4 separate regions of the Homo sapiens genome follow, and all the other regions are reported to be linked to region 4. The links are microRNA targets in miRTarBase. Many come from high-throughput screens and were not tested one by one. Region 4 holds a microRNA gene; each other region holds the end of a gene's coding sequence.

What was found. Region 4 holds the annotated microRNA hsa-miR-6881-3p (AUCCUCUUUCGUCCUUCCCACU, at 2,084-2,105, opposite strand). A microRNA usually pairs through its seed, bases 2 to 8, with sites in the 3' UTR of a target mRNA and lowers its output. Matches are read on the target gene's strand: a 7mer-m8 pairs with bases 2 to 8, a 7mer-A1 pairs with bases 2 to 7 and ends in A, and an 8mer does both.
Region 1: the mRNA of MTARC2 is a reported target of hsa-miR-6881-3p. The part of its 3' UTR that is shown has no 7-base or 8-base seed match.
Region 2: the mRNA of SLC23A1 is a reported target of hsa-miR-6881-3p. The part of its 3' UTR that is shown has no 7-base or 8-base seed match.
Region 3: the mRNA of RUNX1T1 is a reported target of hsa-miR-6881-3p. Seed matches in the 3' UTR shown: 8mer at 2,382-2,389.

The regions. Positions count from the first base shown.
Region 1 is chr1:220,781,385-220,784,494 of GRCh38, forward strand. MTARC2 (mitochondrial amidoxime reducing component 2) reads left to right here. Exons shown (of 8, transcript NM_017898.5): 7 at 394-548; 8 at 2,535-3,110. The coding sequence ends at 517. Among named protein-coding and RNA genes, the nearest start is that of MTARC1, 4.0 kb to the right of the region's middle.
Region 2 is chr5:139,369,291-139,372,400 of GRCh38, reverse strand. It overlaps SLC23A1 (solute carrier family 23 member 1), which reads left to right. Exons shown (of 15, transcript NM_005847.5): 14 at 148-414. The coding sequence ends at 395. PAIP2 (poly(A) binding protein interacting protein 2) reads right to left here. Exons shown (of 4, transcript NM_016480.5): 4 at 2,684-3,110. Among named protein-coding and RNA genes, the nearest start is that of SLC23A1, 12 kb to the left of the region's middle.
Region 3 is chr8:91,957,408-91,960,505 of GRCh38, forward strand. It overlaps RUNX1T1 (RUNX1 partner transcriptional co-repressor 1), which reads right to left. Exons shown (of 12, transcript NM_175634.3): 12 at 1-3,098. The coding sequence ends at 2,835. Among named protein-coding and RNA genes, the nearest start is that of RUNX1T1, 140 kb to the right of the region's middle.
Region 4 is chr15:74,409,278-74,412,373 of GRCh38, forward strand. MIR6881 (microRNA 6881) reads right to left here and starts at 2,155; the gene lies at 2,080-2,155. It overlaps SEMA7A (semaphorin 7A (JohnMiltonHagen blood group)), which reads right to left. Exons shown (of 14, transcript NM_003612.5): 11 at 2,608-2,735; 12 at 2,279-2,433; 13 at 2,018-2,079; 14 at 12-1,708. The coding sequence ends at 1,347. RefSeq lists enhancers at 1-463, 107-366, 2,372-2,872, 2,873-3,096.

The DNA of each region.
Region 1 (3,110 bases), not on the chromosome of region 4:
GGTTGAAAGCATGGTGCTTAAATGCACTAAACAGAAGATTTGTAGAGTTCAGGGCCATTCCATTTTGAGTTTTAGGGGCATTTGTTTCAATGAGTTGTGAAGTTGAAGGTACCCATATAGACAAAGTATTTATTTTATACTTACACATAAGTTTTTTTCTTTTTGGACTTAAACTGAAGCCATGGAGAAATTGCGTAGACTTTCAGGATACTTCTAGAAAAACTAGAATTATTTGCAGTTTGACTAATTGTCCACAGACTTCTCTCGCAACATTTTAGAAAATTCTTGCTGTGTATTTATAAATAACTTGGAAGGCAAACTTGAGTTCTATTGAGAATACTTCGATTATTATTTCCTTTTTGTGTCTGATGATTGAATTTTTGCTTGTTTCAGCTACCGCCTGTGTGATCCTTCTGAGAGGGAATTGTACAAGTTGTCTCCACTTTTTGGGATCTATTATTCAGTGGAAAAAATTGGAAGCCTGAGAGTTGGTGACCCTGTGTATCGGATGGTGTAGTGATGAGTGATGGATCCACTAGGGTGATATGGTAAAGGGTCAGCTTTGCTTCTGAATACGCTGTCTTGAAGCCATTGCTGCATTTTCTTGTGTTAATTTTTTTTATGTTATGCTGCTTTAATTCTTGAGAGAATGAACAGTTTTATATTCTGATCTTTGGAGTTGGAAAATGCCCTTAATTTCTGTTCCCTGCAGTAATTTGTGTACTCCTACCTCAGCCTTCTCCACCCCTATTTCCCATTTAATGGTAAAATGCTGATGGAAGAGGCTCAGCAGAAAGACAGGTATATGTTCACAGCTCATTACAGAATATCATTAAGGAATAGGGAAATGAAGGTGATTGATTCTCAGAGTTATGTACATTCTCAGAGTTATGTATTTATTTTTTCTGTCTCAGATAGAAGGGAAAATGTTTAAATTATTCAACATCAGCTTGGGAAATGTTTAAATTGAATGTCTTTTATCAAATGTATTTTTAAAGTATAATTGAAGTTTGAAAAAAAATCAGTGCATCATGGTGACTGGGTCCTGAATCATGAGTTAGAAAATAATGTTCTCACATTGATTTCATTGTGTCCAATACAGCCCTCACTCCTGGAGGCAAAAGCCTAACTCCCAAATTAAAGGAATGAGAAAGTTGGACAGAGGACCTCAAATTGGAGATTTTAAGCAAGTTTTCTCATAAAATCCATGACCCAGTTCTTTAAGTTACCTCATCTCCAAAACTCTTGACCATCCTTCTCTCTGATTCTGGCCTGAGCTTCTCACGTGTGTTACTTGCCTTTGTAGTCTTGACACCCACAACCTGACCCTCCTTAAGGACAGTGTAACACAGTGGCTTAGAAGGTGTAGATCTAGCATTAGATAGACTTGGGTTTGTAATCCAAGCATCTTCCTAACTTGGTTGAGATGTTTAACTTCTCTTTAAGTCTCAGTACCCTTATCTGCAAAGTGGGAATAATAGTACTTACCAAAACAAGCAATAAAAGTTATCTTGAGTATTAATTCATATAAAGTTGCGCTGCAACACAAATAAAGTGCTCAGTAAATATCAGTTATGTTTTTTATTGCCATCATTCCATCATGATCCAGTCTTAGGTTCCATAGTGGGTATAAAGATGACACAGGCTTTGCCTTTGAGGTGGGCAAAAAGGAGCTACACTTCTATTGATGACTGTTATGACTAGGTATTTGCATAACCATAACCATATTTCATAACATATTTCATCCGTTCTGAGATCCTATTCTAACATCTCTGATATCAGTCAGCTTCTTATAACATTCAGGATGCCTTTTGAAAAATATCAGTGATGCATAAAATTATCAGTGATGCATATAATAATGGTGCATCTTACAATTGGTATATCTTGGATTTGATGAAATACAATAAGTATTAATACTAGAGGGGAAACTGTGAAGCTCCTAAGTACCTGGCATTTCTAAAAGCCCCATTTGGGGAGAGTGGACCCAAGCCTGAGCCATCTAGCTTGAGTGAAACTGATCCTGTGTCCTGCTGTTCCAGTCATGATTGACTGGACCTGGATCATTGTGTGAGCCAAGGGCTTTCATGTGTTCTCTGCATCTGAGGGAGCCCAATGGCTGTGAGATACCATAACGATTGAGGGTTTTCCATATCACTCCGTCACAAACTCATCCAATCAGATCCTGTTTTGCAGTGGATGGAGGCAACAAACATCTGTGGTTCACTCAGCCTCAATTTCCAATTGTCTCTGCTGCCCAGAAGGCCTTGTGTAATCTTTATCTGTGAGAGGATCTCTGTGAGATAGATATGATAACAGGCACTTTATGGATGAGAAACAAAGGCTTAGATAGGTCAGCTGACGTAGGGCCTGGGAGCTGATGTGAGTTAGAGCTAATGGGCCATGCTTTCTGCACAGCACTGCACCATACATTTATATGTGTAACCTCAATAAGTGACTGTTTTGTGGGAGTTTGAATTATTTATGAACAGTAGGATAAACAACCAAATAACCAGAGATTCTTATTATTTATTCAGGCTTCAGCAACCAGGAGGGATTGACTGAGATCTTAACAACAGCAGCAACGATACATCAGCAAATCCTTATTATCCAGCCTTCAACTATCTTTACCCTGGAAAACAATCTCGATTTTTGACTTTTCAAAGTTGTGTATGCTCCAGGTTAATGCAAGGAAAGTATTAGAGGGGGGAATATGAAAGTATATATATAAATTTTAGGTACTGAAGGCTTTAAAAATAATTAAGATCATCAAAAATGCTATTTTGAATGTTATCATGGCTATTACACTTTTACTTCCTGACTTTAATATTGATGAATAAAGCAAGTTTAATGAATCAACTAAAAAGCTGCAAAAATGTTTTTAAAATGTGTGCCTTTTATTACCTATCAGTCTATGTTTTGGGAGAAATGGGAAGCAACAGATCACTGTGTCCTGATGTGCAGGACGCATGTTACCACACTCACAAATGCCTAATATTGGTCTTTATGTGGCCATTGAGTCCTGTTGACTTTCCACTCATGTGCTTTTTACTCTAGCATTATGGAATCTGGGCTGTACTTGAGTATGGAAATTCTCTTATAGACTTAGTTTT
Region 2 (3,110 bases), not on the chromosome of region 4:
AAACCATAGATTCAGCCACGTTTTAGGACCAAATGATAGTTAAGGAAGATACTTGATTCCAGAAGTCTGCCTTAGGACTGGGTTATGGGAAGTGGGGGTGGCTGAGGGTTGCTGGCCTTGGTAAATGACCTCACTATCCTCTTCCAGGGAGCCCAGAGGAGCGTGGTCTGATACAGTGGAAAGCTGGGGCTCATGCCAACAGTGACATGTCTTCCAGCCTCAAGAGCTACGATTTCCCCATTGGGATGGGCATAGTAAAAAGAATTACCTTTCTGAAATACATTCCTATCTGCCCAGTCTTCAAAGGATTTTCTTCAAGTTCAAAAGATCAGATTGCAATTCCAGAAGACACTCCAGAAAATACAGAAACTGCATCTGTGTGCACCAAGGTCTGAAAAATGACTTCCAGGAAAGGTAGGATGTGTCTATGGTTTTTGTGGGAGGGTTGAATAATCAAAACATTCTTATGCTTTAACCAAAGAAAAACCAAACTACTCAGTTCTCTTTCTTGTAAACTGTTTGAATGTCCTCAAAGAGAAGGTGAGCTGGGTAAAAAGTCAACATACGGATTTTGGGTGGAATTCCTTTACCATTTCATAGTAACAGCAGAACTTCCCAACTAGTGTGGGCCACTAAGAGGCTACAAGTATGCTGAAATGCAGATCCTCTAGCCTTCCAGACACCTGGGCAGAATCTGGGCCAATTGGAGTCCTTGAGCTAAGAACTCTAGCCACTGGCAGCCTCATTCTTGTACTCCAGTATGCTAAACAAGTATCACTTTGATATGCGACATGGAAAATGTTGAGAAATGCAGCACAAGAACAGGAAAAATCCTCTCATATACACTGCCTTGTCTCAATAACGTCATAAAATTAAAACCCTTTAAAACAGGATGCCTTTATCCTAAAACGATGCCTGTACAAGCCCTGATGAGGTGACACTTTGTCCTTAGGTCTTCAGAACGCATGGGCAGCTGATGCTCGGAAACCTTCCATCACTATCTGTAATGCAGATGCCTGGCTCTCTACTAAACACTGAAGTGGGTTCAATGTGCACGTTCCCTCAGACAGACAAGAAAAGTTCCCAAAAAGAGAGGTTAGCCTAGATGACTCCTTAATAGTAAAAATAACAACACTTAAAACAGGACTTTCTATGTCTTAAGTACTTATATATATTAACTACTCACATAATCCAGAGACAGTTATTACTGCTATTTTAGAGATGTGGAAAGGAAGGTACAGAAAGGTTAAGTGATATGCCCATGATCACAGGATTCACATCCAGGAAGTCTGGCTAGAGTTCCCTTTTCCTTTTTTTTTGAGACAGAGTCTTGCTCTGTCGCCCAGGCTGGAGTGCAGTGGCGCCATCTCGGCTCACTGCAACCTCCACCTCCCGGGTTCAAGCAATTCTCCTGTCTCAGCCTTCTGAGTAGCTGGGATTACAGGCGTCTACCACCATGCCCAGCTTATTTTTGTAGAGATGGAGTTTCACCATGTTGGCCAGGCTGGTCTCAAACTCCTAACCTCAAATGATCCACCTACCTTGACCTCCCAAAGTACTGGGATTACAGGCGTGAGCCACCGCACCCAGCCTAGAGCCCCCTTTTCTTTTTTTAAATTTTTTTCCCAACAAAAGCCACATTCAAGAATCTTTACTCTTAAGGGCGATCACCTGAGGTCAGGAGTTCGAGTCCAGCCTGGCCAACATGGCAAAACCGCATCTCTACTAAAAAAATACAAAAATTAGCCAGGCGTGGTGGTAGGCGCCTGTAATCCCAGCTACTTGAGGCTGAGACAGGAGAATCACTTGAGCCCAGGAGGCAGAGGTTGCATTGAACTGAGATTGCATGACTGCACTCCAGCCTTGGTGACAGAGTGAGACTCTGTCTTGAAAATAAATAAATAAATAAATAAATAAATAAATAAATAAAGGCTGGGTGCGGTGGCTCACGCCTGTAATCTCAGCACTTTGGGAGGCCGAGGCAGGTGGATAACCTGAAGTCAGGAGTTCAAGACCAGCCCGGCTAACATGGTGAAACTCGGTCTCTACTAAAAATACAAAAATTAGCCAGGTGTGGTGGCACACAACTGTAATCCTAGCTATTTGGGAGGCTGAGGCAGGAGAATCACTTGAACCTGGGAGGTGAAGGTTGCAGTGAGCTGAGATCGTGCCACTGTACTTCAGCCTGGGCAACAGAGCAGGACTCCGTCTCCAAAAACCAACCAACCAACCAACCACACACTGGGGTACAGGTGCCCACACCAAAGAACCTCCCCCATACCCACTGCCAGAAGAATGTGAGTCAGAACTGACTATATGGCTCTCTTAATCTTTTTCAACCTAATAAGCTCAAAAAAAGCCCTTGTGAAGAACAAAAAACAATGGAGGTTCTATTAGAGTAAGGTCACCATCATATTGGTCAGCCATAAAGTTTCTTACATGACTATCTAGGATTCCCCTGACACTGAAGTCTGAGGTGATTAAGAAGCAAGGATGGGCAATGGAGTTATTCTACTGCTATATTCTGGAAAGGTACTTGCATGGCAACATACCTGTTAGAATCTAACAAAGCCTGAAAGCTTAGCACATTTTGCCAGCAAGATTGTCCTGAGGCACTGGGCCCATACTCAAGTGAGTAACACCACTACAGTACATTCCAGCACCAATAAACACAACCATCTGCTCAGTTCTACTATTATTTATTTTTTTAAATATTTTTGAAAAAATATAATTTTTTTACAATATTTTCAACTTAAACACTATTCACACTGAACACGTATGGCAGCTTAACCTACCCAAATATGAAGTTTAAGAAGCCAAAACTGTTCTAGCTTTGTTAAAAGTTGTGCTGCAGACTCTCGTGATGGTTAACAAAGCAAGGAAAAGCACCACTCAAATCATGTTACAGTATCTTTGTTCAGCTGGATTATGGGTTGGTATTGGTCATATGTTAGACTCCATACAGGCATAGCTATGATGCAGTGAATCCCTTAGAAGTTACAATTCTCAAATTACATACTTCCTCAGATGTAACATTAGAACTCAATATTTCTAACAATAACATACCAGAAAAGGCTGGACTGGCACTCATCTGCTGACTAACTTGTAGC
Region 3 (3,098 bases), not on the chromosome of region 4:
GCCACTGAGGAGAATGTAGCAAAACAGGAGGAGAGGAAGAGGAGGAAGAGGGGAAGGAGGAAGAGGAATCAGAGATAGAGCTCAGAGTTAGGGATTTTTTTTTGTATTTGTTTTCACTCAGGGTGCCCTGAATTAAAAAGTAATGAGACGTACTGTACTAATCCTTATTTTACACACTAGTGTTAAGAATAACAGTGCTGTTTCACATACATCACAGCTTCTAGAGATAAAGACGTGTGGGTATGACATACCTCATTTTTGGGATTATTTAACCCTTCGTAGCCTAGAACATATAATAGCTCTGTAAGAAAGGACTGTCCAGTGTCACAAGCAGACTAGAAAGCAGAGTGAGGTCAAAGGATTCTGGGAGCACCATGATAAAATATAACCCATTCAGAGCCTGGTTATGTGCTTTCATTTCACTTTAAGCAGGTGTGCTGGCAGATGGACTTCCAACATGTAGATAGATGTATTTATTTGCTCATCAGAACTTTCTAAACTAAAAAGTCATTTAAAAAAAATAACACCACCCAAACAAAATTAAAACCAACTTGTATATGAAAATACAGGGAAGAAATGCTTTTAAAAATGTTAGATTTAAGAGACTTAAAGCAAACCTTAGGATTGCCTCTATGCAGATACTTAAAAGCCACTTAAAACTGTTTCCAAGGCCTACATTTAACCCTCCCCCCACCCCCCGCCCCAAAGCTAATGGATTGTTTTTGATTTTAAAGAAATGCCTGGTGTATATGTATTTGGAGAAGTGTCTTCCCAGCCTTGTAAACTTTGGTTGTCTACACAGCCTGCAGCACTGCTGACTTTCCTAAAGCACACAACCACATCCTGGGCTACTGTTTTCAAAACTAACAAGTAGTTCTGGTCTGGACCCTGGACAACGAAGGGTTAATGGATTCATACTATACCTTGCTGAACATGTTTAACCTGCTGATCATTTGGAAAGTAGTACTGGTGCTTTTCAAAATTCCGATTTTGGTCCATCAGATCAGTCTTTGGCTGACTTCCCTTTTTGTAAGAATACTGTATAACCTGGCATTCAGCAGTGTTAAAGCTGTCAATCTACACCTCAGCATTTGGAGCTCTAATGATTTTTACTTTTGTAAAATTAGAAATACTTAAACGACCTTACAGCAATATGCATGCACTGTCCTTTTTTTTTAAAGTAGGATATCTTGTTATTTTATTTTTTTAAAAAAGTCCCTAATAATGATTTAAAAAAAAAAAAAAGAAAAATTCCACGACTACTCTATGCTACAGCTAAACTTGATGAAATGGCTCTAGCATATTTAAAAAGAATTTGCTCAAAAAAAAAAAAAAAAAAACAAAAAGCATGCCTAGGGAGTCATTGTGACAGTGCAAAATACATTTATGTACATCCCTCTTACAAAAACACCAATATGTTAGCATTCCGTGAAGCATGCTGGTTTTCAGGAAAAAAAAAAATCCTATAAGAGAGTGAAATAGCAGCTCCGAAAGATAGCTTTTCTTCTTTTCTTTTCTTGAGGACAACCAAAAAGAGTCTTTTTTTCCTTTTTTTTTTTTTAACTACTAGAGAAATATCACTAATACATACAGATATAAAAGCAGCATAGAAAGATACAGGTTTCTCACCAACTAGGAATAAAGAGACTAAATGTGGGCATATGGTTAAACTACAATGCATCTTCACATTTGTCCAACACATTTACAAGAAAAACACCATTGGGAAACCTCACAGGACAGAAGTGTTTTAACACCAAGAGAACTACTAGTTTTTAATTAAAAATCCAAACAGGGTGGGGTTGAAAAATTTTGGAAAGGGGCTGGAGCTGAAGCCACCATTTTTAAAATTATTTTTTTCAATATAAAATGAATGAGCTGGAATAGACCCAATGTCTTACTCTGTGGAACCTTGCAAAAGTGAAGAAACGTTGAAGGGTTATTTAGGGCAGCTGGCTGATGTCAAAACTGCCAGAATGCTAATTAACTGCAGGCTGAGTCTCTTACTTGTGTGTGTGTGTGTGTGTGTGTGTGTGTGTGTGTGTGTGTGTGTGTGTGTGTGTATATGTGCGTGTGTGTGTGTGTATATATATATATATATATATATATATGGAGCCTTTTGTATTATGGCATTTTTTTTTCTTGCTGCTGTATTCATACATCCCATTGCAAATCATCTTTCATTTTTCATTCTGTTGACCTGGATATTATTATTTCTTTTCAGAAACAGGAAAAAAACCGAACATCTGTGTCTCCTTCCAATCTGCTGCACATCTGCGCGTTTTGTAGCGGGTCTTCAAAGTTCAGTTAGCAACCCACGGACGCCATTCATCTTCTTGTTAAAATGTCTACTGCTGTATCCAATGCTCATGCCCTTGAGGGTTTTCCTCTTTTTTTTTTTTCCATTATTGTATATAAAGAACATTGTGACTTTTAATATTAGCATTTTTGCTTTCAACAGCAATTAGCAATCTCTTGGTTTGCTGTTTGGTAAAGCATCGGTTAATGAGGTCATCTAGTTTAAAATCCCAGCTACTTGAAAATAACAGGGAGGAGGTCAAATCTATCATTTCATGTTATATTCTCTGCTCTCTTTTCAGTTCTCTAAAGAAAAGATATCTTTGTTATCCACAATAAGTCATTACGACCCGTTACTGGCCCTCTGTGTTTTACTACCACCTCAAGATACAGTTAGGTTCTCTCTTGCTGAAGTACTGAAATAGGATAATTCATCTAATAAACAAACAAACAAAAAAAACAACTTTGAGCATCTGAGGATGAGGAATTGGTTTCGCGTTGGTTGTGTTGTCTTTCCTCCGACAGTTCTGAGTTCACGTCTAGCGAGGGGTTGTCTCTATGGTGGAAGGGGTTCCCGGGGTGGTTGACCTCGGAGTGGCTGCTGGTGGTGTGTCCATCGGGCTCCCAGCCCCGCTGTTGGGCGTGACAGAGGAGCTGACTGCAGGTGTGTCTCCCTGCTGCTGGGCCTGCAGGGTCTGTCCACAGATGTGATGGTGCTTCTCCCAGTCTTTGTGCTGGCAAAATGAGCCACAGTATCGGGCTGTGTTACAGCCACTGCAGGTTTCACTCGCTTTACGGCCACA
Region 4 (3,096 bases):
ACAGGCGCAGGTAAATAAATAGCTTGTTTATTAGTAATATGTTACATTATTAAAGTGCATTGAGAAGAGGTGCAGGGGCCAAAGCTGGAAGGCCACTGGCCCCAGCCACTGCCCTGGGTGGCCAGACACAGCCGGAGAAGGGCCCAGCTCCCCCCTGAAATGGATGGACAGGGCTGGGGGCAGGGCCGCCTGCCTGGAGAGCTCGGCCCAGGCCATCCCCACCGGAATTTTCACAGTTTAGCCTAAGTTATAACATGTCCTGAGCGAAGGTGGGAGGCTAGGAGCATGGAAGCACAGCCCCTGGGGAAGGGGGCTGAGAGGAAGGGAGGAGGCCCCCCGCCCCCCAACCCTCAACGCCAAGGGCAGAGTCCTGGAACCTCCCCCTGAGGACCCGGCTCGTCCTTCCAAATGAACACGGTGAAACTAGGGCTCAGTTTTCTCCTTCATTCTCCCGTTTCCCTCACCCCACCCCCTCCCATAACCACCCCCAACACTAGGGGCTCCAACAACGTCCCCCTCAGACCGGGCTCCCAGGGCAGAGCCAGCTCATGCCACTCTCCAAGAACCCATGCCCGTCTCCAGACTCTTATCTCATCCCCGGGAGCCTCAGACTGGGATCACCCCCGCTCCCCAACCCATCCCTTCCCAGCCCCTCCCTTTCCCACCCACCCCCCCGCATGTAGTTTTGGTATTTTCATACAGATGCAGTCGGAAGTAGCTATACATGAAATAAGCCTAACATAAAAATAGAGCTTTTTCCGTCCTTCCGTCCGGAAAGCAAACATCCTTCAATAAACATGCAAGGCGGCTGTCCTGTGGGACCCAGGACCAGAGAGGGAGCTGCAGAGGACAGGGCTGGACAGAGGGTAGCCCTGGGTCTTCAGGAACACCAGCCACCCAGCCATGAGAGAGGGAGGGGAAGGAGGCAATGTGGGTACCAAGAGTCCAGAAGGACTCAGGCCTCAGCCCCAGGGTCGAGATGGAGTCCCAGCTCTCCTATCCAAACCCACTCCCCGACCCATGGGCTCTTGGGCTGGGAGCATCGCTGCATTTAGTCAAGTTTGAGGAGTCTGAAAAATATTTTCCAGAAGATAAAGTCTTGGGTCATCGATGCCCCAGCTTCACAGTCGGTGCCCTCATTCTCAGCCCCTCACCATCCGTGCGCCACCTGGGGCCCAGCAGCCGCCTGCGGCTGGACGTCTCCAGGCCTGGCATCCTCCACTGGGTTATTCTGTCCCCTGGAAGAAGTGGCAGGCAAGGAGCTCCCGGGCCAGCCGGCTCTGAGTGTGAGACGTTCTAGTGCCCTGGGCTGCAGAAGCCTGAGGCATGCCCAGCCTCGGGAGGCCCTAGTGGACCAGCAAGCCAAGAGTGAGTGTGGGCAGCACCCCCAGCCAGAGGGAGGCGGCCAGGGCACAGGCATGACCCAGCAGGTGCTCGGCCATGATGCCGTCCTCGGGCAGCAGCTGCCAGTGCTGAGCCTCGCGGAAGTAGGAGCCCTCCTGGGCCTCGCAGAAGTAGTGGCCGTACTGCTGCGCCGTGAGGTTCTCGATGAACAGGATGCAGTTGGGGCTCTGGTGACCAGGTTCGCAGCTCTGCTCCACGTTCTCCTTGTGGCGCCATGAGTAGGTGGCGTGGCGGGATTCCATGGGGCAGCTCAGGTAGTAGCGAGAGTTTGGGGCCAGGGAAACCTTCTGCAGTGGGGCCTTGTCTGGGGAGGCAGTGGGGAAGCAGCCGTGAGGAGGGACAAAGAGCTCCCAGGGGAGGATGTGTCCTCCCCACGGACTGGGATCCCAGGACAAGGCTTCTGAATGAACGTGGGGAACCCAGCCCTCAGCGTCCTCCTTTTTTCTCCCGTCTCGCTCATCCCACCAAGAGGGCTCCCTCTGCAGGACTGTATCCTGCCCCATGTACCTGGGGCCCACAGGACAAGGCCATGTCTCCCTCAGACCAGGACAATCAGGGCAGGGCAGTACCCCACTCATTGGGCCACAGCCGCCAGCAGGGCCAGATCAGGTACCTGGTTTGGGGTTGGGACACTCCTTGTGTGGCTCGGCTGGATTAATGGATTGCAGCACTGACCTGGAGTGGGAAGGACGAAAGAGGATCAGCAGATACAAGGCTGCAGACCTGACCCTCCTATCCTTACCCCAGTGCAGTTCCAGCAGAGAGGAGGGTCCCACAAGAAAGGCCCAGTACCGCCACCTCCTCCAGCCCGACAACACCTCCCCCTCTCCCATGCCCACCTTCTCCCAGGGACGAGGGATCCCGGCCAACGTACCGTTCGGAGCTGTAGATGGAGATGCAGCGGCCTTGGTCCCAGCCGCAGTAGGGGTCTCGGGACATGAGGCAACCGTGGCAGCCCCCGCCATAGACCTCACACAGGTCCAGGGGCACCTGGCTCACCTCCCACTGGGAGCTCACATACAGCTTCCTCTGGAAGGACAGCAGGATTGGGTCAGGCCCGGGCCCCACCCCACACTCAGTCCTAAATGTCCAGGCCCTAAGGCCTAGAAGCTCTTAAAAGAACACACAAATCACATGCAAAGGAGCCCTGTCCTCAGCTGCAGTCACTGCATAGCCCATGGGACGCAGTGGGGGAAGGCTCACCCGCTCAGCATCCAGCGACATGGTCTGGATGGCAGCCGCGCGGCGGAAGGGCTGGATCTCCATGATGTTGAAGGCGAAGCTGTGCTCCTGCTCCCCCGGTTCCACCACCTTGTGGATAGTGCCCCTGTCTGTGTATGGTGGACAGAGGGTCAGTGGGCGGGAGTCCCACTGAGGGGCCAGGCAGCTTTCCTCTAGGCCGGGGAGGGGTGGGAAGTCACAACTCAGGCAAGGGTCACAGGACTGGTGTGGGCAGGGCGAGGAGAGCGTGACTGGGGAAGAATGTGGGAGCCTAAGGGCAGCCTGGAACCTTCCAAGGCTGATCCAGAGAGGCCATCCCAGGAGGCCCAGGGGTCCCTGGATACGGCCTCCAACATTCCCAAGGCTGCACGGGAAGAACAGAAGCAGGAGCCCCACACCAGCAAGGTCAGTGCGGCTGCTGTCCATGCATCACCTCGTTTAACCCTCCACAGCCCTGCGAGGTGGCTGTCA